Linked DNA regions of Homo sapiens. The protein of the gene in region 1 interacts with the protein of each later gene in a biochemical or structural test. Each region holds a gene or a part of one and is shown in the gene's direction. Other genes may lie near its edges. The genes, in order: AKT1, MAPKAP1, HSPB1 and SKP2.

Evidence for each region.
Region 2: of the proteins of AKT1 (region 1) and MAPKAP1, one has a biochemical effect on the other in vitro, tested with the Homo sapiens proteins (3 studies listed by BioGRID, with this or other methods).
Region 3: the proteins of AKT1 (region 1) and HSPB1 form a complex in vitro, tested with the Homo sapiens proteins (3 studies listed by BioGRID, with this or other methods).
Region 4: of the proteins of AKT1 (region 1) and SKP2, one has a biochemical effect on the other in vitro, tested with the Homo sapiens proteins (4 studies listed by BioGRID, with this or other methods).

What each region holds. Positions count from the first base shown.
Region 1 is NC_000014.9:104,778,741-104,785,765, reverse strand, and holds part of AKT1 (RAC-alpha serine/threonine-protein kinase), read left to right. Parts: intron 1-5,549; coding exon 5,550-5,678; intron 5,679-7,025. UniProt on the Homo sapiens protein: AKT1 is one of 3 closely related serine/threonine-protein kinases (AKT1, AKT2 and AKT3) called the AKT kinase, and which regulate many processes including metabolism, proliferation, cell survival, growth and angiogenesis.
Region 2 is NC_000009.12:125,557,187-125,564,211, reverse strand, and holds part of MAPKAP1 (target of rapamycin complex 2 subunit MAPKAP1), read left to right. Parts: exon of another isoform or gene 1-477; intron 478-4,402; coding exon 4,403-4,579; intron 4,580-7,025. UniProt on the Homo sapiens protein: Component of the mechanistic target of rapamycin complex 2 (mTORC2), which transduces signals from growth factors to pathways involved in proliferation, cytoskeletal organization, lipogenesis and anabolic output.
Region 3 is NC_000007.14:76,298,103-76,304,810, forward strand, and holds HSPB1 (heat shock protein beta-1), read left to right. Parts: upstream 1-4,570; 5' UTR 4,571-4,610; coding exon 4,611-4,974; intron 4,975-5,699; coding exon 5,700-5,763; intron 5,764-5,881; coding exon 5,882-6,071; 3' UTR 6,072-6,190; downstream 6,191-6,708. UniProt on the Homo sapiens protein: Small heat shock protein which functions as a molecular chaperone probably maintaining denatured proteins in a folding-competent state. Plays a role in stress resistance and actin organization.
Region 4 is NC_000005.10:36,147,897-36,155,117, forward strand, and holds the start of SKP2 (S-phase kinase-associated protein 2), read left to right. Parts: upstream 1-4,214; 5' UTR 4,215-4,366; coding exon 4,367-4,374; intron 4,375-4,874; coding exon 4,875-5,146; intron 5,147-7,221. UniProt on the Homo sapiens protein: Substrate recognition component of a SCF (SKP1-CUL1-F-box protein) E3 ubiquitin-protein ligase complex which mediates the ubiquitination and subsequent proteasomal degradation of target proteins involved in cell cycle progression, signal transduction and transcription.

The sequences.
Region 1 (7,025 bases):
GGCTGAGGCCTGCTCCATGGTGGAGCGGAAGGAGGTGAAGAATTTGCAGTTTGTGTCAAGTTACAACCCCTGCCTTGGCGGCAGGACCTGGGGTCTCTCTGGTCATGATCTGCCTCTGAGGGTCACCTCCCCTAAGTCTCCGTTTTCCCAGGGAGCTGATGGGCATGATGAGCCCTGCCCGCCCTGCCTGCCTGGTGGGCTTTCTGGGAGAGCAGAATGGGTCCTGGGCTGGGCGAGGCCCAGGCAGGTGGAGCGCCAGTCCTCTGCCTGGCGGGAACAGACACCTCTCCTTGTGCAGACTGGCCACTTGTGCCCCCTCAGAAGGGCTTGTGCCGGGAGGAGCAGTGGATGTATTTCACCCACAGACCTGGGGGCTCCAGCCAAGTGGGGTCAGCTGGCCTCCGTTGTGTGGCCCCTCCCCTGCCCCCACCCCAGCCTGGTTGTTTACAGGGTTCGAGGGCTGCTGGTAAAGGGGTGTGTACTCCCGGGCCCGGGCAGAGGCCTGGCAGGCCGGGCCCTTCGCGGTGAGCTGTGCGGTCTCCTGGCAGGCGGGGAGGGTGGGTTGCGGGCCCCTCATGGGCTGCCGTCAGCGGAGCCGTCTGCTCAATGTGCTGGAGAAGGTAAATGGGCCCCCGGCAGCTGTCGGGGCGATGGATGTGTCGGCAGTGGGGACCACGGTGGCCGCTGTCAGCTGGCGCCCGCTCCCAGGGCCTGCTGGGCTCACTTTGCTGTGGAGAAGCAGCTCGGTGCCGCCTGGCACCCTGCCAGCCGCTGCCACCACCGTCTCTGCGAAGTGTTTATCCAGCAGTTTCCTGAGAACTGGGGACTTTGAGAGAATGTTCAGGGAGCTGAGGACGTGGTGGCCTAGGGGGGCTGACACACCTGGTGGCTCAGGAGGTGGTCAGTCCCGGGACGTGGAGGGCCACCAGCTGGCCCTCAGGGGCCCACCCAGTCCTGCCCATGGCGCGTGGGTCCTGGCCCCCATGTCTAAGTGGGTGCCGCTTTGGGGGGCCTGACCCACAGTGTGGCCTGGGACACGTGTGTGAGGCGTGGAGAGGGTGGGCTGCCTGTGACTGTCCATGTGGTCCCCGTGGTGGTGGTGGGGTGGGTTGGGGGAGGCCAGGCAGGAGCAGCTTCCTCTCAGAACCCCGGTATTTGGTCCAGGAGGACTTCTGGGAAGGAACCCTCTTTCCCTGGGGGTGCTCCAGCCCCTTCCTGGGGATGAGCGGGGTTGGGGATGGAAGGTCACTCCTGCCGGAGGGCCACCCGGGACATCGGGATGCCAGAGGGACCAGGGCTGGGGTTGTGTGGGGCCCAGGAGGTGCAGGAGGAGTCGAGGGAGCCTGGTCTCCGCTGTCCCCCCGGGCAGGGACAGGAGTCTGGCCAACTGCCTACCCCCCACCGAGGGCAGCCACCTCCCATGCCTGGAGCCCTGGGCCATGGATGTGCTGGCTGGTGGGGAGGGTTACGGGTTTCATCAGGCACAGGAGCCCCTGCCCTTGTGGCTTCACAGGACCTGGTCTTGGATAGGTGCAGTGTCACAGGGTTAAGGGTCAGGGTGGCTCCCACCTGGCCCAGGGCTGGCCTTGAGAGAACCCTGAAGGGTGGGACCGGAGCTGCTGCCTCCCACTGCCCAGGGGGCCAGCAGGAGGGTGAGACTGGAACTGCTGCTTCCCCGCTGCCGAGGGAACCGGCCATGGGGCAGGAGGGTGGGACCGGAGCTGCTGCTTCCCCCTTGCCCAGGGGACCAGCCATGGGGCAGGAAGGTGGGACCAGTCCCCAGTGCCGTCCTCCACTCGGCCCCCCACTCAGGTCTTCTGGCAGTGGTGTGGGGTCCCCCATCCGGACTTGCTGACATTTCTGAAGGGGCACCTAGCCGTCTTCCCTGCCAGACCCTGAGGCCCAGGCCGGGGTTGCACTGGGACCCTGCCTGCTCCAGGTCCCGGGTCTGAAACATGTGCAGCGGGTGGGGACTTGGGGGTTCTTGAGCCCAGCATGGGGGTGTGAGAGTTAGGGACTGAAGAGGCCCCCTGGGCCTGAATGCTGGGCGGTCTCCATTGCCCTTGGGAGTGGCTGCTGGCAGGAGATGACTCTGGCTGTGTGTGGGGTGGGGCGTGCCCTGGCCTCCCCATTTGTTGCCTGCCTGTACCCGTCTGGAGTGAGGGCCTGGCGTGGCAACCTGGGGGTCTGTGCCCACTCTGTGTTTGGTGCCCTCAGCTGTGCAGGCAGGTGGGTGGGGTGGTGTTGGGGGGGTGACTGGGGTGGGGTGGGGGGATGCCAGCTGGCTGATGGTGGGGAGATGGAAGGCCCCTCTGTGGCGGGTGCTTCCCATGGTCGGTGTGGAGGACGAGGTCCCTACTGCCTGGTTCCAGTTCCCCCAGCAATGCAGGGCACTTTTCCTGGGGTGTCAGGGATTGAGAGGCCACTCTTCAAGTGGACTGTACTCCTGCCTCGAGTGGGGGGCATCTGAGGACCACAACAGGGTGGGGAACTCAAGTTAAGTCCTGGATGACAGGTTCCAGTTCCCCTGGGGACCCTCAGGATAGTGAAGGAGAAGACTCCATGTGGGTTGGTCTCTTTGTGTGAGGGGTCTGGGAGGGCAGCCCTGGCTGATGTGTCTGTGCTCCCACCCTCCTGAGGGACCCGGAGTAGGCAGGTGCAGGCCTGCAGGCGTCCTGTGGCCATGAGGACAGTGATGCTGGGCCCCGGGTGGCTGTCTCCTCCACCTGCCCCGTCCTGTGTCACCCCAGTCCTGGATCAGGGAGTAGTGGGGCCCTGCCGCATCTGCTGTCGGGGCTGGCCGCCCACCCAGCATCCTGTCTGGGCTGAACTCGTTAAGATGCGCGCCACGGCCCTGGCTGCAGCTGGCACCCCCCCAAGTGATCCTCTAGCTGACCCTCTAGGCGAGAGATGAAGAAAGAGAACTGTGTGTCTCTGGACCCCTTACCCCGGGTCCCTGGGGATCCTGCTCCTCCCCTGGAGGGGTCTGTGTGCTGGGCTGGGATGCCGAAGACAAAGGCCACGTGAGGCCCCTTCACTCACACCCGTCTCCTGGGGTAGGCCCTGATCGCCGTCTGTTCCCTGGGTCTGTGGGGCCAGGCGAGGGGAAGGCACTGAAAGCCCAGGGCCCATTTGGGCCTCTGCCCATCCCAGGACTCCCCAGGAATGCTCGGGGCTGGGCACCTGTCCTCTCCCACCCCCCACGCCTGGTAAGCGCCGCCCCTGGGCCTGCCCCTCCCGCACCCCCAGATCCAGCTCCCAGAACCCCCCAGATGCAGCTCACAGAACCTGGGGCTGGGCTTGTGGCAGCAGGGTCAGGGGCAAGGCTGGGGTTGGGCACGGGAGCTGCGTGCTCGGGGGCAGCACGGGGCCATGCTGGGCACGGTGGGGGCTGGCAGCAGTTGGTGGATAAGATGGGTTTCAGGGGTGCCGGGCCTGGGCGCTCATCAGTCTTCCCGCTCAGTTAGCGTCCCGGGGAGTGGCAGCTGGCAGGATGGGAGGCACTCCATCAGGGGCCGACAGCTCCAGACTGGCATGCAGGCGGGTGGGCGTGAGCAGCGGGGTGGCCCAGGATGGGGGACGGGTGGGGTGGGCTGCATGCAGCCCCCTGAGCCTGCTCTGCTCTCACTGAGCGCCCCTGCCTGCCCGCTGCACCTGCAGGGGCCCTGTGGCTGGGGGAGGGGACGTGGGAGGCGGGGTGGAGCTGCGTGGCACGTATGTGCGTGTATGTGCACACTCGGGGGTGTGCGAGATCCCAGGTCAGGGACAGGAGCCGGCACCCAAGGGTGGCAGGACCACGCCTGCTCGGCAGCCCACTGGCAGGGGCATGGAGGGCTTGCGGAGTGGGTGGGGTCTCCTGATGAGTGCTCTTGGGCACAGGGGCAGATTCTGGGCCCTGGATCATCCTCCCTGCAACTGGGTGTTGGCCGTCCTCCAGAGGTGTCAGGCAGCTATGAGTGGGCTGTGGCTGTCCCCTTCCTGGTCCACCCCAGACCTGACAACAGCCTCTTCCCACACTCAGGCCCTGCTGGGTGGGGTGTCCCCACCCTCCACCAGCATCCCCCCAGCAGCCCTGGCTTGGGCAGAGAGAGGGCTGGTCTTGTGGAGACCACGCCCCGTGGTGCTGGTGGGAAGGGCATTGGGCAGCTGGGGCCGGGGTAGGAGGGAGAGGTCACCTGGCCGGGGGGTGGCCATGTGTCGAGCCTTGGTGGCTCACCTCTATTAAAGAACTCCCCCGTGGCTCCCTGGAAAGTAGAATGCCTGCTGGGATGCCCATGACCCATGTCCTCTGAGCTCCCCTGGGGCTGCTGCCCTGCTGGGACTTCCCTGTGCACCAGGGAGGGCTGGACGCGTCTGGGCTCACCACGAAGACCCAGCAGGACTGGGTGGTGGGTGGTCTGGTGATGGGACAATTGCTTGTCCCCCACATCCCTCCAGGTGTCCCTGTCTGGGGCTCAGTGTGGCATGAAAACCCAGGCCCCAGAGCTCAGGGACCCCAACCCCTTACCCTGGCCCCCTCCCTAACCCCTGCCCAGTGACCCCTCAGATGAAGCAGTTGCCTAATTAGTAAGTTCCCTGTTGTTCAAACTCCTTGCTTGGCAAAATGTAAGTGGAACATTTTTTTCCGAGTGTCAGTATGAAAAATGGTACTTGCTGGGCTATCACCGAGGACAGCTGCTCTGATTCTGAAGTGTGAACGCCTGCGTACGGCTGATGCTGCAAAACTTGAGGGAGAATGTTCCCGTGTACCTGAATGACCCACGGGTGGGACGCGGCAGGGCCGACGGCGGCAGGGCCTGAGTGTGGGTCTCAGCCTGGGGACTTGGCACCCTCTGTGCCCTGGGGCCCCTGCCCAGCTGGCTGGGCCACCTCCGTGTCTGGCTTCATCGGCAGTCCCCAAGACGGTGCTCCAGGCCCCTAGACAGGGAGTGCGATCCCACGGCAGTGGGCAGTCCTGTCCCGCGAGCCCGGCCCTCAGTCTGAGTGGTGCTGACCTCTAACTGTGGACGCCATGCTCCATCCTCCTGGTGGGTGGCGGCGGGGCGGGGGGGGCGGCCATGCTGGGCAGCCCACACAAGCCACTGTCACCTGCTGTCGCCACCTGGCCGACCCTGGTTGATTGGGGAATGCTGTCAGCCCCGCAGCCCCTGTGGCCATAGCTGGGGCCCGAGCTGCTGCTGGTGCCTGCTGGGGACTGGCTGGTTTAGGGCTGCCTCCTCCAGGAAGGCTGTGCAGACTGGCCCAGACCTCTTCCCAGCCTCCTGTCCATGGTACTCCATCCCCTGCGTCCAGCTGGCCCAGCCCGTTTTCAGACACAGCTCGGGGTGGCTCTTCTGAGAGGGGCGCTGTGGTGGGGCGAGTCTGCCTTCCCGTTGACCCAGGGCCGTTTCTGTCGCTGGCCCTAAGAAACAGCTCCCGTACCGCGCCTGCCCCCTGGGACTCAGGCATCCCAGGCACATCTGTCCTGGCACACCCAGTTCCTGCCTGGCTGCCTGGCGAGGGTCTGACGGGTAGAGTGTGCGTGGCTCTCACCACCCGCACGTCTGTAGGGGAGTACATCAAGACCTGGCGGCCACGCTACTTCCTCCTCAAGAATGATGGCACCTTCATTGGCTACAAGGAGCGGCCGCAGGATGTGGACCAACGTGAGGCTCCCCTCAACAACTTCTCTGTGGCGCGTAAGTATCCCCTTGGCCTCTCGGGATTCAGATTTGGGGGGTTGGCTGGAGCCCTCTTTGCCCACCAGGCCCCACGATGGGGGTCCCCTGGAGCCTCCAAGTCCTGGGCTGGCAAGCAACAAGCACTGGCTGGGTGGGGGTCTCTGGGCCGAGTCCCGAGGCTGGCTGGGCAGGGGTCTCCGGGCTGAGTCCCAAAGCTGAGGCTGGCTGGGTGGGAGTCTCCAGGCTGAGTCCTAAGGCCGAGGCTGGCTGGGCAGGGGTCTCTGGTCCAAGTCCCGAGGCCGAGGCTGGCTGGGCAGGGGTCTCCGAGCTGAGTCCTGAGGCTGGCTGGGCGGGGGTCTCTGGTCCGAGTCCCGAGGCCGAGGCTGGCTGGGCCGGGGTCTCTGGGCTGAGTCCCGAGGCCGAGGCCGGCTGGGCAGGGGTTTCTGGGCAGAGTCCTGAGGCCGAGGCTGGCTGGGCGGGGGTCTCTGGGCCGAGTCCCAAGGCTGGCTGACCCTGGAGCAGTTCCCTGGTGCCCATGCTCTGGAAGCTGGAGGGTCCGGACAAGTGGCAGCAGAGCCCAGTCTCAGGGTGGACAGCTGCCCCGGGGGCCCCTCCTCCAAGGGGGTTAGATAGAGCCCATCAGGGCCTCTCCTTGGGAAACCCCTTGGGTGAGGGGGCAAGAGTCCATTGGGGTCTCCAGCTCTGAAGCCTCCATCACTCGAGGAAGAGCTCGTGCCTCTCCCTGCACAGGCTCTCAGCCTCCAGACCCCATGGCAGAGCCTTTGCTTCCCCTCTGTGAGGCTGCCTCCTTGCCCATGGAGGGGCAGGTGCAGAAAGGCCAGCGGGGGACCTTGGCCGGAGCATCCCACAGAGATGAGAGACATGTGACGCTCCCTGCTCCGCCCTGCTGTGGCTTTATTCCTTACCTGTAGCGGGGGCAGGTGCGACCCTACCCATGTCAGACGGGAACCCTGGCATGGAGACCCAGGCGCCCTGCTAGGTGGGAGGCTGGGGACACGTGGGCCTCCCAGCATGGTCCCCATTTTCTGTGTCCCTGTCCTGGAGCCCAGCTCTGCCTGTGGCAGCCAGAGACACGGGTTGGGCATGCAGGTGTGACTGAGTGGCTAATTAGGGCCCAGTTGTGGGCCATCTGTATGTGGCAGGGCTGGGTAACTGCAGGCCTCTGGGATCTGTCTCAGGCAGGTCTGTGGTGCAGAGCGAGGTGCCCACCAGGGGCTGGCCTTAGGTTCCATCCCCATGTGCTGCATCGGCCCCTCCCCTCCAAGTAGCTCTGCCCTCCTTTCTTTGAGGCCTGCGGTCCTCCGACTCCCTTGAACTTGCTGGACCCCCAGGTTCTGGTCCAGG
Region 2 (7,025 bases), on another chromosome or scaffold:
TATAAAAATTCCCCTTTCATCCTCACCTTTGCCTGTGCTGCCTTCTCCTCTAGTCTTGAATTACAATCTTTGACACATGTGCATTGCCTAGAAAGCCCTATTTGGTTAACAGATATCACTGTGAAAAGCAAGAACACAAAAAGAAGGTTATTACTTTCCCTCTTCTCATTAACACATACCTCACTAATAATACCCTTTGCTGGTTGGGCATGGTGGCTCACGCCTATAATCCCAGCACTTTGGGAGGCCAAGGCGGGTGGATCACGAGGTCAGGAGTTCGAGACCAGCCTGGCCAACATGGCGAAACCCTGTCTCTACTAAAAATACAAAAATTAGCCAGGTGTGGTGGCAGGCACCTATAATCCCACTTGGGAGGCTGAGGCAGGAGAATCGCTTGAAACTGGGAGGCAGAGGTTTCAGTGAGCAGAGATCGTGCCATTGCACTCTAGCCTGGGTGACAAGAGCAAGACTCCATCTCAAAAATAATAATAATAATAATAATAATAATACCCTTTGCTTTCTTCATAGAGTGATTGAGTCTACACATTCATATCTTCATTTATTCAACAAATGTTTGTTAAGTACCTTCTAAATGCCAGTCATTTTACTCTTTAGTAAGTATGGAGAGATAATAGAAGAATCCTTGCTCTTTAGAATACAGATGCAGAAATAGGAAAAAGCAATATGATTAGTGATATACAGAAATATTGACCAAATTTTGTAAGACCACAAAGGAGAATTGCTTGAATTTCGGAGATCCAAGCTATTCTCCTAGAGAAATCAAGGAAAGCTGTTTTTCCGATAAGAAAATGGAGCTCAAAGAGATTTGGTCTAAGAATTTGAGTTAGCATTAAAACCAGTTGTGTCTGCAAAATCCCTGTTCTTTCCACCAAGCTGTGTCATGGGAAGTGCCCCTGTTTCCATTGTGTTGTAAACTCTGAGATGTCTGTATCGGGGGGTTTCCTGAGGCAGGGACCAGAGCTGCCCCCTTTCTTTTCTCTCCCCATTTCAAAGTCCACCAGTTTTTTATTTGTTTAAAGAATAATGGACAAGAAGTGGGGACACCAGAGTTTTCAAGACCAGCTTTGCCTCTGTTTAATTGGGTGATCATGAGCATGTTATCCCTCTTTTCTCTGCCTCCATTTCCCATCTGTAAAAGCAAGGAGGTTGAACTAAATCTAACTTTTTATAAGTAATATGTCATGGTTTCCTTCTTCTCATCAAAGTGTGTCATATTTCCATAGGTGATTGGGTTCTCAAGTGCCTCAGGAAGTCTTGACACACTGTGGCTTTGGCAGAGGAATGGGTGGGGGTCAAGAGGGACAGCTCTTGGCTGCCTGGATTTGAATCTCAGCCCTGTCACTTACATGCTGTTTAATCTTGAGCAAGCTACCTAATCCTATTGAGGCTCAGTTATCTAATTTGTAAAATAGAAATATAAATGATTCATTTACAAAGTTGATGTGAAGTTTCAGTGAGCTTATATATCTAAGCCGCTTTGCAGAGTGTCTGGCTTATAGTACTCAATAAATGTAGCTAATGATACTGCTGGTATTGTACTAGTACTAATTTGGAGTCCTGAAGCAGTTTTAGAAGTCAAAATATCACAGTAGCTTCTTTTACTAATGATTCCTTTATAAAAGCACCAAAGGAACCAGTATGTCCATGTGTAGAATATAGAATTTTAGTCATTATCTCCTCAGATTTTCAATTAAGGGGTCAGAGGAGTTGGAGCACTATTTACTGCTAGACTTTACTGATGACCCAGAAGAGGCTTCTATTCATCTTGTATAATATGGCAGGAATCAGTCTTCTTTTCCTTCCTCTGTTCCTGATGCTCAGGACAGGCCACAGCCCAGGGGGGCACTTTACAAATGTGTTTTGAATGAATGATTTCACACTTCATATTTAAGAACTGGGGAGAATAATAGCACTTGGCAGTGAACCTTTTGCATCTCAAATCTTAGCCTGTGATATTTATTGAATTTGTTTTGAGAGGATTTGGGGATGTCCCTTAACAATCAAAGCAGAATTCTTCTGATATCATTGTTGGACTTTTCTGCTTTGATCAATAGGCTTATTATTTGCCCCTGAACCTCTGTGATGCTGGAGAATCAAACATTCCTCAGGTTGATTTACATGGCAATAAATAATCTGTGCTGTCTGTTGCTTGTTCCATCCATGTCTGCCCTGTTCATAAAACCCTGGGGGCTCAGTGACCCAAGGTTCCAAGGTTGGAACACAGTGGACATGTTGACTCCCATTACAGTTGTGTGTACATAGAACATGCTGCTCAGATGCATTGTTGCTTAATATGCATCCACAATTTGTGTTTAAGGATTGGTGCAACTATAAGTTAGTTTCCATATGACTTTCTTATTATAGTTACCTTCCCATTTATTTTTTACTTCTGTTACATGCCAGACACTACATATATTATCTGATCTAATCTTTACAATCTCTGAGGGACGATTATACCCTTTTTATAGAAGTGGAAACTGAAACTCGAGGTGAAGCTTATTCTCTGAAATCACATAGCCATGAGCCATGGAGCTGAAATTTGAACTCGTTCTGACCACAGAGCTCTCTTAGCCAGTATACCATGACATTTTCCTCATCCAAAGTGCTTTCTTTTGCCTCTCTAATTGTTCTGTTTTTAAGTTAGTACCCGGCTGCAGAGATCCAAAAGTTTCCCATGCCATTCAAAGATGAATTTTAAATATCTTAACAGCATTACAAATACCTGAAATGTAAAGTGACAAACATAGCTAGATTACTTTCTTGTTATCAATCCATTTAGCAAATTTACAGTTTCCATTAATTTTAATTTGTCCTTATTACTTGTTTTTTATAATAAATATCTCTTAGTCATGACAGACTCACTGAGTATAGATCGCCTGAAGTAGGCTCCCTCTCTTGCAATAAGCAGAGTTGCAGCTAAAGATTTGTGAATTAATTGGGAAAATTGCAAGTCAGGTAGTCAGTGAAATAATTCATTGTCACATCCAGTCAATAAACTTGGTAAATCAACTCATTTAATTCAAAAAATGATCTATATAGATCAACCAACCAATTAAACAATTAGCATACACTTTGCAATTAATTAATTTAAGCATCAATCATGTAATTAAAACTCCAAACTTAAGCTGCAGAATTTAGAATTCTACTGCCTTGTGAGCTATTGGGTTCCTGCTTCTGAAGCTAGCATAATTCTGAAGCTCGCAGGTTTGCGGTTTGGAGCAATTGAATTGATTGCACTCTTACACTGTCTGTATGTTGGTATAGTTTCCCATCCTCTTTGAACAGATCAACTTTTTACTTCCCCCAAAGAGGGTATGTGTTGATTCTAAACTGGGCAAGACTGCAATCTGGGAGTACTGTCTGGACATTCTAGGGAGTGGGAAGTGTGCAGAAGTAGTCAAGAGGACCAGGTATCTGTGTCAGGACTAATCCAGTCATTTGCTTTTACTCTGCTAAGGATCCATGGTGTTTGAAGTCAGATTCTACCAACTGACTTAGATACTCTTTAGAGAAGGGAGAACTGTATGGATTGTCTTGGTTACCTTGAGTATTTCTCCTGATCTAGAGCACAAATATTTTCTTTTTTAATTTTAATTTTATTTTTTTGAGACAGGGTCTTAACTCTGTTGCCCAGGCTGGAGTGAAGTAACACCATCATAGCTCACTGCAGCCTCGACCTCACGGGCTCAAGTGATCCTCTCACCTCAGCCTCCTGAGTAGCTGGAACTACAGGCGCATACCACCATGTCTGGCTAATTTTTGTATTTTAGCAGAGATGGGGTTTTGCCATGTTGCCTAGCTAGTCTTGAACTCCTGGGATCAAGCGATCTGCCTGCCTCAGCCTCCCAAAGTGCTGGGATTACAGGCATGAGCCACCATGCCTGTCCAGATATTTTCTTAATCCTAACCATAAATCAAAGGCCTCTGACCCCTGCCTTCCCCGAGGCCAGATAATCTTCCCCCCTTTACAGTTTTGTTTGTATCTGTTTTATATATATATTTTTTACATTTGTATTGTAGCTAGTGTAATGCTTATTACTTTTCCTCCCTACTATGCTGTAAGCTGCTTTTAGGGCTGATACTAAATCTCACCTTTGATCTAAGAGGTTAGGTTCTTTGTCGTAGCTGCAATAGGGCTCAGTGAATGTTGCAAGAATAGAGTAGTATAAAGACCTTCATTTCACACTGTTTTTCTCCCCTTTGCATTGCCATGTGTATTCTCTCTATCAAATGAAGTAGGATTTGGGATTTTTTACTGTATCACCAGGCTTGGGGTAAAGAAAAGCAGTCTCCTCAATTTGCTTGCTGTGCACCATACCCTCTGGTCTTCTTGTCCCTTCCCTACCTTGGTATTCACTCGCCTTTTTGGTTTTCCTTTCAGTGACAATGTCAGTGCCTACTGCCTGCATATTGCTGAGGATGATGGGGAGGTGGACACCGATTTCCCCCCGCTGGATTCCAATGAGCCCATTCATAAGTTTGGCTTCAGTACTTTGGCCCTGGTTGAAAAGTACTCATCTCCTGGTCTGACATCCAAAGAGTCACTCTTTGTTCGAATGTGAGTACTGACTCTATTACTTCTCTCGGTATCTCATCCCAACCTTCTAGCATTTTGGATCTGATTTTGGTTTTGTTCATCAAATAAATGATATTTGGCATCTGGAGAGTCCACTGGTAATAACGATGACTCCCAGAGAGATGCTGAGGACGACATTCGCATTGTATTTCATGCCTCTGCACCTAGGCTACGCAGACTGCTTTGCAGTGGCACATTGTGTGAAGCAGATCTCTGAACGGCATGTCCAGAGCCAGGCCTCTGGAAACACTGGTGCACTGGGAGCCTGTGAAGCAAAACTTCTAGGTTTGCACCTTCTCTGCGAGGAATACACACTAACTGAAAATGTGCACTGTGGCCACTTCTCTCTTGTGACTTAAAATAATTTTCTCTCAGACCAAATTTGACCTTCCCTGTCAGTTGCCTGCCTTGAGACTGAGCACATGTCTTCAGCTTTTTTTTTGTGCCTTTCTCAGAAAAGCGTGTGTAAATGCATAAAATAAAATCCACTGGAATATAAAAGTATTCTGTTATTTAAAGTTATCAGATTATTGAACAAATTCATGATATAGTAATATGTGTGGCTTTACTAGTAGATTAAACAATATCCAGCTGTATACCTAACAGTAACTCCTGAAGCCTGTTGTTTCAAAGCGGTGATGAGCATAAATGGTATTTGAGAAATCTGCAACAGCTGTAATGTGCTGTAGTGTTAGCTATGACTTCTGTTCATGACAGAGTCACTGGCACTGTGATTCTGCTGTGATTGTTTGCCTACACTTATAAATCAAGGAAATGCAAAATATTAGAAGTTAGTGAAAATTAAAATGTAGTTTTTATCCATTCAAGTTTATGAGCTCCTGAGTTTTATCCACATGTCCCAGTTGTTAAGGGAAAACCTGCTGCATTTGGATTTTACTCTCAAACCTAAGCTTTTTTTCAACCTAGGCCTCAGCAGTCCTTCTCATGGCTGTCTCCTGGGAACAATAGCGATCCCTTTGGCACCCCCTGCTGTTAGTAACCAGCAAATTCACTGCTCAAAAGGGATTGCTTTAGAAGACATTTCCCTGTCTCTCTCAACATACTGCCTTTGTTTGAGATTGTTACAGAAAATAGGGTTATGCTACATATGATATATGAGTATTTTGGCTCTTTCTACCCTTGAGCAAAGAAAGAATAACTGAGTACCTGGGGGTAAGCTGGGGAGTGGGCCCTCAGGCTTTCATGGTGGCCGTTTCATCCCTACTACAAGGTCAAGTTTGGTGTAAATAACAGCAAATTTTTTCCTGCTTTTTCATTTCAGAGGTACTAAAATAACTTTAAAGGATATTTAAAATAATTGAAAAGTTGGCCAATGATGCCTCCATCTTAACTATTTTTAATCTTGTATAATAATCGTGTGTATATGTTACTCAGTTTCACTTGTAGCACACATATTTTTGTGTTATTTTTACTTGACATTAAATTAGGTCAGGCGCAGTGGCTCACGCCTGTAATCCCAGCACTTTGGGAGACCGAGGCAGGCCAGGATTTGGGAGGCCGAGGAGGGTCAAGAGTTCGAAACCAGCTTGGCCAACATGGTGAAACCCCGTCTCTACTAAAAATACAAAAATTAACCGGATGCAGTGGTGGGCACCTGTAATCCCAGCTACTCGGGAGTCTGAGGCAGGAGAATCGCTGGAACCCGGGAGGCGGAGGTAGCAGTTAGCTGAGATCGCGCCATTGCACTCCAGCCTGGGCGACAAAGTGAGACTCCATCTAAAAATAATAAATTATAAACGTTTCAGTATTTGTTCTTAATTCCTACAGTCTGTATTTATGTGCCAGAGATCTAGGCAGAGACAGCACTACCCTCATGGAGCTTACTATCTAGTAGTGAGACAGTTGTCAAATAATTAAAATGTGATAAGCAGTATAAAAGAAAAGTGTATGGGTTGTAGTGGAAGCCGATCACAGAATATTTAGATTGCTTCCTTGTGTGGTTTTAATAAGTAATTTGATGATGATGGTCATTATCTATATACCTTTTATTCTGTTGAACAACTTCCTTAGGATCATGCCTTGTAAGTAGGATTATTGGTCAGAGTAAAAACATCTTTAGACTCACTTTTTATTGACAATAGCCCTCTGAAAGATGTCCTAATTTACAATGTTACCAACAGAATTCCTAAAATCATTTTTATAGTTTTACCATTACAAGGTATTAGAAGTTTTTTTTTCTACTCTAAAAGATATACACAGTGGCATTTCGATAGTTTTTACTTGCATTTTTATTGATTATTAATATGACTAGAACTTTTTCTACATGAATGTTAACACATGATCATAGCAGTCTTTTGAACCAGAAGTCCTTTTTTAAAGCAAGAGGCTTTAAATCACTGAGTTTTCAGTAGAGTGGAGTGGGGCTAGGATTCATATGCCTTTCCAGGAGGGGCATCTAAGACTACAC
Region 3 (6,708 bases), on another chromosome or scaffold:
GACCATCCTGACTAACACAGTGAAACCCTGTCTCTACTAAAAAAAAAAAAAAAACAATACAAAAAATTAGCCGGGCGTGGTGGTGGGCGCCTGTAGTCCCAGCTACTCTGGAGGCTGAGGCAGGAGAATGGCGTGAACCCGGGAGGCGGAGCTTGCAGTGAGCCAAGATCGCACCACTGCACTCCAGCCTGGGTGACAGAGTGAGACTCCGTCTCAAAAAAAAAAAGAAAGAAAGAAAGGCATCTAGGTCGGGCGCAGTGGCTCACGCCTGTGATCCCAGTGCTTTGGGAGGCCTAGGCAGAAAGATCTCTTGGGGCCAGGAGTTCAAGACTAGTCTGGGCAACATGGTGCGACACCTGTCTCTACAAAAAATTTAAAAATTAGCCAAGTGTGGTGGCACACATCTGTAGTCCCAGTGACTCAGGAGGCTGAAGCAGAAGAATCACTTGAGCCCAGGAGGTCAAGACTGCAATGAGCTATGATCACTCCACTGCACTCCAGCCTGGGCAACACAGCGAGACTCTGTCTCAACAAAAAAAAAAAAAAAAAAGGAGAGAGAGAAAGGCATTTATGAGCTCTCTCTCAAAAAGGAAACTGAGGCTCAGAGAAGGCATGAGGACTTGCTGCTTCCCCAGCTCATCAAGGTGAGTGGCCTGGAGTCTGCCCCGATTCTGGGCCTGGGCAGGGCAAGACTTCAGTGGCCTTGGCTCCCCATAGAAGTAGGAGGAGTGGAGCCTCAGTCCCAGGATAGGGACAGCAAGTACAGTGGGACAGAAGAAGTGGGAGGCCCTGGGTACTAGAGAGGCAGGAGGTTGGCTCTGAGAGCACTTTACCGGAGACAGCAGAAAGCCATTTAATCTCTGTGCACAGCAGTTTCCTTGTCTAAAAACCAGGGATAACAGGGCCGGGTGCGGTGGCTCACACCTGTAATCCCAGCACTTTGGGAGGCCGAGACAGGTGGCTGACTTGAGGTCAGGAGTTTGAGACCAACATGGCGAAACCCTGTTTCTACTAAAAATACAAAAATTAGCCGGGTGTGGTGGCTCATGCCTGTAATCCCAGCACTTTGGGAGGCCAAGGCAGGCGGCTCACTTGAGGTCAGGAGTTTGAGACCAACATGGCGAAACCCCGTTTCTACTAAAAATACAGAAATTAGCCGGGTATGGTGGCACATGCCTGTAATCCCAGCCACTTGGGAGTCTGAGGCAGGAGGATCGCTTGAACCCAGGAGGCGGAGGTTGCAGTGAGCTGAGATTGCGCCACTGCACTCCAGCCTGAGTGATAGAGTGAGACTCTGGCTCAAAAAAAAAAAAAAAAAAAAGACAAAAAAAAAAAAAACAACAACAACTAAAACAGGGACCTAAGTCAGGGGAGAAGGAAGGCTGGAATGGCCATGCCTACAAAGACAGGAAAGAGGGAATGTCAGGGTTGTGGCAGGAGCCTAGGGCAGCACCCTCCCTCCAAGCTGGGAGATAGGAGCCAGGATCCCATTGGTGTTTAGATGGATGAGGTAGGGTCAAGGGGCAAGCTCCAGGCTCTAAGCACTTCTGTGCAGACTCTACTACTTGGAGCTCCCCTCTCCCTCTGTGATGTGGGCATCAAAATCTGCAGAAAGGGAAACTGAGGCCTAGAGAAAGGAGGGGATTTGCCCAGAATGACACAGGAAGTCCAGACTAATTCAAGTTTGCGGCATTTGAGGTTCCTGGCCAGTGTTTCTTTTTCTTTTTTGTTTTTTCTTTTTTGTTTGAGACAGAGTCTCGTTCTGTCACCGAGGCTGGAGTGCAGTGGCGCGATCTCAGCTCCCCGCAACCTCTGCCTCCTGGAATGATCCTCGTGCCTCAGCTTCCCCAGTAGCCGGGATTACAGGCACCCATCACACCTGGCTAATTTTTTGTATTTTTGGCAGACACGGGGTTTCGGCATGTTGGCCAGGCTGGTCTTGAACTCCTGAACCCAGGCAATAAGTCTGCCTCAGACTCTCAAAGTGCTGGGATTACAGGTGGGAGCCACCACGCCCGGCCAACCAGTGCTTCTTAAGGAAAGATACATATAGTAGGAGATGTGACAGTAATCTTCCTCCTGGCCCCTCTCAGCACTGTGCCATGGAGGTTCTGATCTGGGCCAGCTGCGCTGTTAGGGGAAGGGGGAAAATGGCCAAACCCCATGTATTCTCCTTCCTTTTCCCTCTCTTCAATCCCAGGCAGGTAACAATAATTATGATGTACCAGGCTCCGGGCCAAAGTCATCACCTGCATTAGGTCACCAAATCCTCAGGCCAACCCATTACAGTCATGAGTCACTTAATAACAGACACATTCAACAAATTCCTTGTTAGGCAATTTCATCATTGTGGGAACATCTCAGAGTGGACTTACACAAACCTAGATGGTCTAGCCTACTACACACCTAAGCCATATGGTCTAGCCTACTGCTCCTAGGCTACAAACCTCTACAGCATATGACTGCACCAAATATTGAAGGCAGCTGCAACATGAGGGTAAGTATTAGTGTTTCTAAAGATAGAAGATGGCCAGGCGCGGTGGCTCACGCCTGTAATCCTAGCACTTTGGGAGGCCCAGGCGGGTGGATTACTTGAGGTCAGGAGTTCAAGACCAGCCTGGCGAACATGGTGAAACCCCATCTGTACTAAAAATACAAAAATTAGCCAGTGTCGCGGCACTTGCCTGTAGTCCCAGCTACTCAGGAGGCTGAGGCAGAAGAATCACTTGAACCTGGGAGGTAGAGGTTGGAGTGAGCCTAGATCAGGCCACTGCACTCCAGCCTGGGCGACAGAGGGAGACTCCATCTCAAAATAAATAAATAAATAAATAAATAAAACATAGAAGATGTACAGTAAAAACACGGTAATTGTTTTTGTTTGTTTGTTTTGAGACAGGGTCTTGTTCTGTCATGCGGACTGGAGTGCAGTGGCACCATCAGGCTCACTGCAGCCTCGACCTCCTTGGCTCAAGTGCTCCTCCCACCTCAGCCTCCTGAGTATCTGGGACTACAGGTCCACGCCACCATGCCTGGCTAATTTGTTCTGAATTTTAGTAGAGATGGGGTCTCACTGTGTTGCCCAGGCTTGTTCCAGCCTTCTGGCTTCAAGTAATCCTCCCACATCAGCCTCCCAAAGTGCTAAGATTACAGATGTCAGCCACTGCACCCAGCCAGTAATATAATTTTATGGGACCACCTTCATATTTGCTGTCCCTTGCTGACTTACACATCTTTATGCAATGCATGACTGTTACCATCATTATCATCTCTATTTTCCAGATGGGGAAACTGAGGCACAAAGAATCTAACTTGCACAAGTTCATCTGCTTAGTGATGGAACAAAGATGTGAATTCAGGCAGTCTGGCTTCAAAGTCCACACGCCTAACAACCACACCAGATTACTAGATTGCTTTTTTCTTTTTTCTTTTTTTTTTTTTGAGATGGAGTCTCACTCTGTCACCCAGGCTGGAGTACAGTGGTGAGATCTCGGCTCACTGCAACCTCTGCCTTCTGGGTTCAAGCAATTCTCCTGCCTCAGCCTCCCCAGCAGCTGCGATTACAGGCGCCCGCCACCACACCCAGCTAATTTTTGTATTTTTAGTAGAGATGGGGTTTCACCATGTTGGCCAGGCTGGTCTCAAACTCCTGACCTCTGGTGATCCTCCCACCTCGGTCTCCCAAAGTGCTGGGATTACAGGCGTGAGCCACCACGCCCAGCCCAGACTGCTTTATTTTTGTATTTGTATTTATTCATTTACTTATTTTGAGACAGGGTTTTGCTCTGTAGCCCAGGCTGAAGTGCAGTGGTGCAATCCAGCTCACCACAGCCTCTACTCACCGGGGTTCAAAGGATCCTCCTGCTTCAGCCTCTGGAGTAGCTGGGGCCACAGGCATGCACCACCATGCCCAGCTAATTTTTAAATATTTTTTGGTAGAAGTAGGGTCTCACTATGTTGCCCAGACTGGTCTCAAACTCCTAGCCTCAAGGGACCCTTCTGCCTTGGCCTCCCAAAGTGCTGAGATTACAGGCATGAGCCATGCACCCAGCCCCTTTTTAAAATTTTTTTGAGAGACAAGACTTTGATCTGTTGCCTAGGCTGGAGTGCAGTGGTGAGATCATAGCTCACTGCAGCCTCAACTCCTGGGCTCAAGCACCAGACTCCTTTTATCACATTCTATCTCACACGCGTGTGGTTCCAATCCTGCCTCTGCCACTTCTCAGTTGTATGCCCCAACCCAACCTGTCTGGCTCTGTCCTCCTTAACAGAAGGACGGCCCTGGCCACGGGCCACAGCCAGCAACGCTTAAGCACCAGGGCCGGCGAGTGCCCTGCCGTGGCACGGCTCCAGCGTCGCGCTCTCGAATTCATTTGCTTTCCTTAACGAGAGAAGGTTCCAGATGAGGGCTGAACCCTCTTCGCCCCGCCCACGGCCCCTGAACGCTGGGGGAGGAGTGCATGGGGAGGGGCGGCCCTCAAACGGGTCATTGCCATTAATAGAGACCTCAAACACCGCCTGCTAAAAATACCCGACTGGAGGAGCATAAAAGCGCAGCCGAGCCCAGCGCCCCGCACTTTTCTGAGCAGACGTCCAGAGCAGAGTCAGCCAGCATGACCGAGCGCCGCGTCCCCTTCTCGCTCCTGCGGGGCCCCAGCTGGGACCCCTTCCGCGACTGGTACCCGCATAGCCGCCTCTTCGACCAGGCCTTCGGGCTGCCCCGGCTGCCGGAGGAGTGGTCGCAGTGGTTAGGCGGCAGCAGCTGGCCAGGCTACGTGCGCCCCCTGCCCCCCGCCGCCATCGAGAGCCCCGCAGTGGCCGCGCCCGCCTACAGCCGCGCGCTCAGCCGGCAACTCAGCAGCGGGGTCTCGGAGATCCGGCACACTGCGGACCGCTGGCGCGTGTCCCTGGATGTCAACCACTTCGCCCCGGACGAGCTGACGGTCAAGACCAAGGATGGCGTGGTGGAGATCACCGGTGAGCCCCCCTGCTCCTGCAGGGGAGAGGAGGAGGCTAGCAGGGCGGGCAGGGCCGGGGGCGTGCGGTTGAAACGGGGGTCCCGGGGGCCTGGGGAGTTAAACGTTGGCCCAGCACCGGGAAAAACAGGACTCCTGATTCCCTTGCTCAGGAATTGGGAGTGCGGGTCGCTTCTAAGGGCGCTTTCTGCTCTGTAATCCCAGCGCTTTGGGAGGCCGAGACGGGAGGATCGCTTGAGGCCAGGAGTTCAAGACTAGCCTGGGCAACATAGCGAGACGCGCCCCCCCGCCCCGACCCCGCGCCATTACAAAAAAAAAGCAAACAAAAATTTTTTTAAAGATCATCGATGAAGAGAGAAAATGCGCTTTTCTACAGAGTCCCCTTCCCACCCACAGCCCCATCCCCAGATAAGCGGGGAGTTCCCTGGCGCGGTGCCAGTTTCTAGCCGCTGAGTGGGCGTGTGCGCGGCTCCAAGTGCGCCTGCGTACTGCTCACTCCCCAGCTCCGCGCCCTGCTCCGTTCCTCCCAAAACTCTGAATCGAAGAACTTTCCGGAAGTTTCTGAGAGCCCAGACCGGCGGGCACGCCCCCATCCCCAACCCCCTCTGTTAATCCCTACCAGCCTGCAGTCCTGGCTGCTTCCAAGCAGGAGGTGGGGCCTCTGGCCTAGCGGGGCCGAAAGGCAGTCCCCTCCCCCGCAGTCTGATTTCCCTCTTCCCCCCAAAGGCAAGCACGAGGAGCGGCAGGACGAGCATGGCTACATCTCCCGGTGCTTCACGCGGAAATACACGTGAGTCCTGGCGCCAGGTCGGGGTGGGTGGGTGGCGTGGGGGTGGGGTCAGGGAAGAGGGCACAGGGACCCACCCGGTGTGTAATGTAACGCTTGCCTTTCCTCTCTGCACGTCCAGGCTGCCCCCCGGTGTGGACCCCACCCAAGTTTCCTCCTCCCTGTCCCCTGAGGGCACACTGACCGTGGAGGCCCCCATGCCCAAGCTAGCCACGCAGTCCAACGAGATCACCATCCCAGTCACCTTCGAGTCGCGGGCCCAGCTTGGGGGCCCAGAAGCTGCAAAATCCGATGAGACTGCCGCCAAGTAAAGCCTTAGCCCGGATGCCCACCCCTGCTGCCGCCACTGGCTGTGCCTCCCCCGCCACCTGTGTGTTCTTTTGATACATTTATCTTCTGTTTTTCTCAAATAAAGTTCAAAGCAACCACCTGTCACTGGCCCAGGCCCTGGTGTTTGTGGAAGGAAGCCTCAGGCACCTGCCATTTGCTGGCTTTCAGGAGTCATCTTTGCTCAGGCCCGTGCTGGGCCATGTGGGTACACTGGTGTAGGTTGCTGGACACAGGCTGACTCACATCCATAAAGACAGAGGTCTTAGGGCCGGGCGCAGTGGCTCATACCTACAATCCCAGCACTTTGGGGGGTTGAAGCAGGAGGAGTGCTTGAAGCCAAGAGTTCTAGACCAGCCTGGACAACATAGTAAGACTGTCTCTAAAAAATAAAAATTAGGCAGGGTGGTACTGCACGCCTGTAGTCCCAGCTACTCAGGAGGCTGAGGCAGGAGGATCGCTTGAGCCCAGGAGTTGTGAAGGGTACAGTGAGCTAACATCGTGCCATTGCACTCCAGCCTGGGCAACAGAACAAGATCCTGTCTCAAAACAACCAAAAGCCCAGAGAGAAAGAGTGAGACCCCATCTTTAAAAGAAAAAAAAAAAAGGTCATGATTGCAA
Region 4 (7,221 bases), on another chromosome or scaffold:
CTGACCGGAACCTAATGATTCATCATTCTCAAATACTGTTAACTTAAATATCTGAGTCTGATGAATCATTAGGTTCCAATTGGAAATTTTATCTAACTTCACATATCTGTATTTTTACTCAGATATGTGCAAAATAATAAAAACCAGGAGACAACTCAAAATCCTAATTATGAAAAATCAAAAGAACCAGAATTAGAAGTGAATGATTAAGTCAACAATTTTCCACCAATAATTAAATTTAAATCTTCCAAACATAATCGTTATTCACATATTTAAAGATTTCAGGTATGAGAGAGTTCAGTTTAGGACACAGACTACTGCAAGAGACTATTACTCCCACTCGAAAAATGAAAAAAAAAAAAAAACCATCATAATATTTTTTAAAGGTACCTAAGAGCTGAGTTGGCGAACCAACCAGGTAACCTGAATTCCAAAATGTGACAAGCCCCTGAGGACAGTGGCATACTGTCCTGCTTTACCTTTTGCAAGGCATGAAGAGAAGAGGTAGCAATCATGTAAGCATATAAGAAAAAAGAACTAAAATTTTACTGAATTCTTAAAGATTTCATACATAGAAATTGCAAGACATTTTGATAGAGAATAATCTGTAAAGTCCTTCCTAATAATAAAATAATTTCAAAAAACGAATAGCTAACATTTAGAATGTGTTCACTAAATTTTAAGCATTGTATTAATACTAGTACCTGCCAAGCTTTATCAAATTAGACCTCACAACCTAGTAAGAAAGGGCTGTTCGTTTCCTTGCTTAACAGAAAAAAAACAGTGCAGAGAGGTTAAGTAACTTGTCCAAGTTAACAGAGCTGGTGAATGGTAAAGCTGGGATTCAAATAGAGGCATCTTTACTACAGAGCCTGGATCATAATTACATGTCTCTTCTCTAATCTAGACATAGTTTCTTAATGCAATTTAAATTGCTTAATGATTTATTTTGTTCAGTCTTCACAGGGAACAAATTAGAAACTTTCTCCCATTTCTTTTAGATATATCAGGACAGAATGCTTAGTCATGTTTAATAAAGAATTTAACGCAAACTTTTTACATTACAGATTATACTACTATTACTTGATTTAAGGGTAATATATGACTGTACTCTACATGGGAAAAGTGGAAAACATAGAGTAAATTAGAATCCGTTTGTTCTTGCCCCAAGCTGCCTATCTTAGAGCATTAAATTACAATGAATTAAAGATCTACTTAGTTCCAAGCACCATTCATTCATTTAGCAAATATTTACTGAACGCCTACTATATGGTGAGCTCTGTTCAAGGGGCTGGAGATAGAAAAATCCAAGCAAAGTCCCTGCCCTTAAAAAGTCTAGTGGGAAGAAACAGGCAATTAAAAAAAATACATTAGGGGGTGATAAGGGTTATGTAAACAGGTAGCTGCCACCACCACAGAGACTATCAGTTCTGGAAATACATTATTCAAGATTAGTTTGGCTACACATAACAGAAAAGTCCAATATAGTACAGACTTATACAATGCAGAATTTATTTCTCGTGTAAGTCTTGAGATAGGTGGTTATGGCAAGTTAGCAGATTATCAGAGGCCCAGGCCCCTTCTATAGTCCACATCCTTAGCAGGTGGCTTTAATCCTTATGTTCCAGGACAGATGCTGGAACTCCAGGAATCCTATCATCATCTAGACAGCAGGATGGAGAAACAAAGAAGGGTGGACCGTCTTCCTTTTAAAGAGATGTAAGAATCGGCTGGGCACGGAGGCTCACGCCTGTAATCTCAGCACTTTAGGAGGCTGAGGTGGGTGGATCATCTGAGGTCGGGAGTTCGAGACCAGCCTGACCAACATGCAGAAACCCCGTCTCCACTAAAAATACAAAATTAGCCAGGCGTGGTGGCGCATGCCTGTAATCCCAGCTACTCAGGAAGGCTGAGGCAGGGGAATTGCTTGAACATGGGAGGTGGAGGTTATGGTGAGCCGAGATTGCGCCATTGCACTCCAGCCTGGGCAATAAGAGTGAAATTTCTTCTCAAAAAATAAAAATAAAATTAATCAGAAAAAATAAGATACATCAGTAGCAATCACAATGCAGTTCTTTATGACCAGATAGCAACCTCTATGTACCTACTAATCTCGTCTTCAATGGACACAATTCCTTACGTTAAAAAGAATCTAATGTACCAATTTAAACTTGCATTTATTATATTAAGGCAATAGTCATGATTAGAAGGAAGGCAAAAAAAAATTATTCCCATATTAGGAAGATGAAGTATGTCTGTTACCGGGGCAAACTATCAAACTGAATTTCAAAACTGACAGGCTCTCCCTGAAGTCCTAGAGAGGATCTTGTGTTCACTAATTCAGATGTTGCAAGTATTCTAGTTCCCAGGTAACTCCTAGTAAAACCAAGACTGAACAAAGATATTTCTCATCTTTAAATTTAGAATCATCTCATCGATTAAACCTTCCTATCTATGAGATCTATATCTGAAGTGGGCTCTCCCAATTATTTTACATCTCAAAACTGTTTATTCTCATTATGGCATCTTAAATATTTTTGTTTATTCTTTCTCCTCCATTAGCTTACAGGCTCTCTCTGTTTTGTTCCCTTTCCTGAAGGAAACTATAATTTTTTGTGTCAAAAATATTTTCTCCTATGAGTTGCAATCTTCAGGGAAAGGACGTAGCTTCAAACAAAGGCAAATGCTTTCTCCTTAGCCAAAGTAACATAAAGGTCACTTTCTGTAAAACATCAGGATATTGCATTTTAAAATGCTTTCCATATAACATTAGTTTGATGAACGGCTTAGCCTAGGATTCTGCACCTAGTTCCAATCAAAACCAAGTTGTGAACAGATCCCTTCTTTACACCAATCTCATCTTTCAAGAACGAGCTAAAGGTTCATGAATTCCTTCCTCAAGAGGCAGTTACTTTTCAAGCTAAGGACCAAGCTTGAAACAAGCATATACCTGCACAAGGGAGGTTTAATTTCACTACAGAGCGAATCATTTTTTCAAGGAAACCAGAGGGTGTGTCATACAGCATCACTGAATATTCTAATATGCGATGAAGCTGTTATGCTTCCTTATGAACTTTATAAATCTTCATTTTTATGAGGCTTAGAATTCATCCCCCTTCCCTCTTCCACTGTTTTCCCGGGGTCACAGTTGTAGTATAGTTTGCCCAATGGATTTCGCATGGTCATTGTACCTGGAATATGTCACGCTCCCTACTCTTACTGCCCCCAAACTCTTCTCAGCAGAGATAGGCTGAAAGCAGCTCGCTTTTAGGCGGCGACGCAAACACACGTAGCCAGCTGAGCGACAGCAAGCAACCAAATGGCTTTGCTGGAGGCCCCCTGCGTGCACGGGTAAAGCTCGTTGCAAAATACAGTCCTTTCATTTATTCCCATGTTGCTATTTATGAGACCTGTCAAGGCTGCAAGGGCATGCGCAGCCTTCCCACCACACAGGACCCGCTGGGGTCTCCGGCTCCCCTAAAATTAAACCATTGTCTCTCGTTCCAACGGCGTGTTTAGCTGTTGTGCGTTATTTTACAGATAAAGGAAGGATCCCGTCCACAGACCCAATTCTTAGGGCCGCCTTCTCCCCGACGGAGGAAGAAGCTTCCTGGCAAAAGGACGAACAGGTGCGACGCCAGCAGTTCGCAGCCTCTCACCTGGCCGGCGGGCTGGGCTACTGTCACCACTCAGCAGCCAAGGACTTGGGCCCCGCAGCGGCGGCCACTCGGGGTCTGCCGGGTCCCCTCTCTTTCCGCCTGCTCTCGGCCCCGGACCCCAGACTCAAAAGCGCCTCACGCGTTCCGCCTTAGGCTCACCGTCCGATCTCGCCAGACAGCGTCTGGACGGGACCGGGAAACGGCGGCCGCCACAGCTGTCCAGGTTCTGGGATCCACGCTCAGAGACGACAGCGCTGGCGATCACCAGAAGGCCTGCGGGCTCCCGAGAAAGGAAAATCCGTCTACAGTCCAGCGGCTGACATTTCCCAGTCAGCCGTAGCGCCGCCCGCTTCCGCCTCCCCGCCTACCCCGTGGGCCGACCAGTCCCGCTCCCGCGGGGGGTTGTGGGTATCTCGAAGGCGGGTAAAGCTGCAAGGGAAGGAAGTAAGGGCGAGCCCGTCGGACTACGAAGCGGGACGGAAACTACAATTCCCAGCAGGCCTTGGGCCTCAGTGCGGCCGCGAAGCAGAGCGGGCTGTAGAGCCTTGCGCGCGCAGTGGGGATGGAACGTTGCTAGGCTTAGCGGGTCTGGCTGCTGGGGGCCCGAGCAGCACGCTCGGAGCCGCCGCGCGCCAAAGCGGGAATCTGGGAGGCGAGCAGCTCTGCAGTTAATGCACGTATTTTAAACTCCCGGGCCTGCGGACGCTATGCACAGGTAAACGGATTGCAAAAAGGGGAAGAGCATGAAATGGACCCTCTTAATAATTCTTTTAGGCCGCGAATATCGCTACTGGCTAATATTGTTAGTAATGCTGTTAAGTGAATGGTTGCTTAGCCCCTTCTTGGGGAAAGTGTGAATGGATGGATGCCTTAGTGCGGGGATCAGCGTGTGGTTTTATTTGGCTTCCCTAATTGGGCTTTTCTGCCACCGTTTTCAATCAGTGTATGATTGCCCTGTCTCTCTCCTTGTCTGTTCCCTCCACTGGGAGAAATTCTTGAGGCCTTCTGCAGGATCGTAAGTCAAAAAGCCTTCTCGATTTGTTCTTTTCATTTCTTCGTTTTCTTGGTAACTCGCCGCAGGCACATAAAAAATGCGATTCTGTTAGCTGCTGTGAAGGTTTCCTACAATGCATAAACTGCAGCTTCTTTAATTGCCTTGAAATTATTTATGGGTGTGTTTTCGAAAGGAACCGGGGGTATTGTGCACTTCTGCAGGAAGCACCTCCAGGAGATTCCAGACCTGAGTAGCAACGTTGCCACCAGCTTCACGTGGGGATGGGATTCCAGCAAGACTTCTGAACTGCTGTCAGGCATGGGGGTCTCCGCCCTGGAGAAAGAGGAGCCCGACAGTGAGAACATCCCCCAGGAACTGCTCTCAAACCTGGGCCACCCGGAGAGCCCCCCACGGAAACGGCTGAAGAGCAAAGGGAGTGACAAAGACTTTGTGATTGTCCGCAGGCCTAAGCTAAATCGAGAGAACTTTCCAGGTAAGGACATGAGGGTAAAAATGTCAGTTATGCAAAGGGTGGATTTAGCTATGTTGTTGGGAAACCTTTGTTCAGAGATCTTTAGCATGGGTTCCTTTTAAGATTGCCTAATTCTGAAGCTATTTTTCAACAAAATAGGGCAAGTCGTCAAGTATGCAGGAATCTTGGTAGATATATATATATATATATATATATATATATGTATGTTCTGGTGCATAATCACCTTGAAAATTTTAACCCATGAGAAGACATTCCTGCCTTTTTCCTTAGAAGGGAATCTGCCTGCCTCAAGGCCAGCTCAGTTTCACCGTTTAACAGAAACATAAACAGTGGTCTTCTTGTAGGATTCCTTTTGCTTTGTACCCCTGAGTGATCTTTTTGCCTTAATCACTTTAGTTATTTATCAGTGGACTGCGAAGTGAACGTTCACCTAAGTGGGGGAGACATCTCCCCAGGCCCACTCCCACCCCCATATTGGCTTCTCCTGGTATGTTCTGTCTCCATTACTGCTGACACTATCTGTTTAATCACCCAACCCGAAAACCTGAGAGTCAGTCAGCTTCCCACCGCCCCCCAACATCCAGTCATTCATCGCATCTTTCCCTCTTCTCTGGTAACTATTTCTCAAGTTCTCGTCGTCTCTTGCCTGAACTATTGGAGTGGATTCATAATTCCAACCTTCTTCTCCCCAGATCTATCCCCCGAACTAGAATGGATTGACTGAAATGTAGAACTTACTGTATCTTCCCTCCTTAATAGCTCCCCATCCCCTAGTTCCTCAAGCAGGCGAACGAGTGCCTCCCAGAGTGAACCAGAACCCTGGAGTATGCAAAAGCCATAGGATAAACAGGGCATTGACCTGGGGTTATCAGTTTTTCTTACTAGTAAGCTATTTAAAACAGTAATACAGCAAATATTTGCTGAGCACATACCATGTGCTAGGCCGTGTTCCAGGTGCTGGAGATAGAGGAGTGGGCACAACAAACATTTCTGCTCTCAGGGAGCATCCATTCTAGTGAGAGAATACAATAAACACAATAACTATTTTTATATAGTATGTTAGAAGGTGATAAGAGCTATGGCTAAAAACAAAAATAGAACAAGCCAAGAGGGAATGCAGGTCTTGGGGTGGGAAGATAGAGTGCACTTTTAAACCAGGTATTGAGAGAAAGCCTCAATTGGACAGTGACCTTTAAGCAAAGACATAAAGGAGGCAAGGAGTGTGCCATGCAAATATCTTGGAGAAAAGAGCTCCAAGCAGAAGGAACAGCCACTGCAAAGACCCTGGTGCATAAATGTGACGTATTTGTTCCAGGAACAGGGAAGCCATATTCTAAGAGTGGAATGAGCGAAAGGGAGAGTCGGGGGAGATCAGGCTGGAGGTAATGTTGAGCAGAGTTGTGATGGGACCTGATTTAACCTTCTAAAAATGACACACTGATGTGTTGAGACTCAGCTGCAGGGGCATCAAGGGTAGAAACTTAGGGTCTTTTTTAAATTTCATATTTTCAAGACGGAGTCTTGCTCTGTTGCCCAGGCTGGAATGCAGTGACCTGCTCTTGGCTCACTGTCTTCACCTGGATTCGAACGATTCTCCTGCCTCAGCCTCCTAAGTAACTGAGACTACAGGCATGCACCACCACGCCCAGCAATTTTTTTATTTTTTGTAGAGATGGAGGTTGCGGGGGCGTTCTCACCATCTTGCCCAGGCTGGTCTCAAACTCCTGGACTCAGGCGATCCTCCAGCCTTGGCCTCCCAAAGTGCTGGGATTACAGGCATGAGCCACCACACCTGGCCAAAGCTTGAAGTCTTGTTGGGGGTGAGGGTGGTCAGATTCCGGATATATTCCCACATTAAAGTCAACAGAATTTAGGAGGCTGTTGAAATCATCTGTGGAAGAGGTGATCAGAGTCTAAATTGAAATCAGGTGGGGGATGATGGCGAAGAAGAAACAGATTAAACATTTAAAGATGAAGTCTTGCAGACCCAAGGTAATTTAAGTATATTCATAAATTCTCCCATCTGGTTTCCTTTGCAGAAGGGTTGATAGATTGGTTGTTTAGTTGATTGGTTG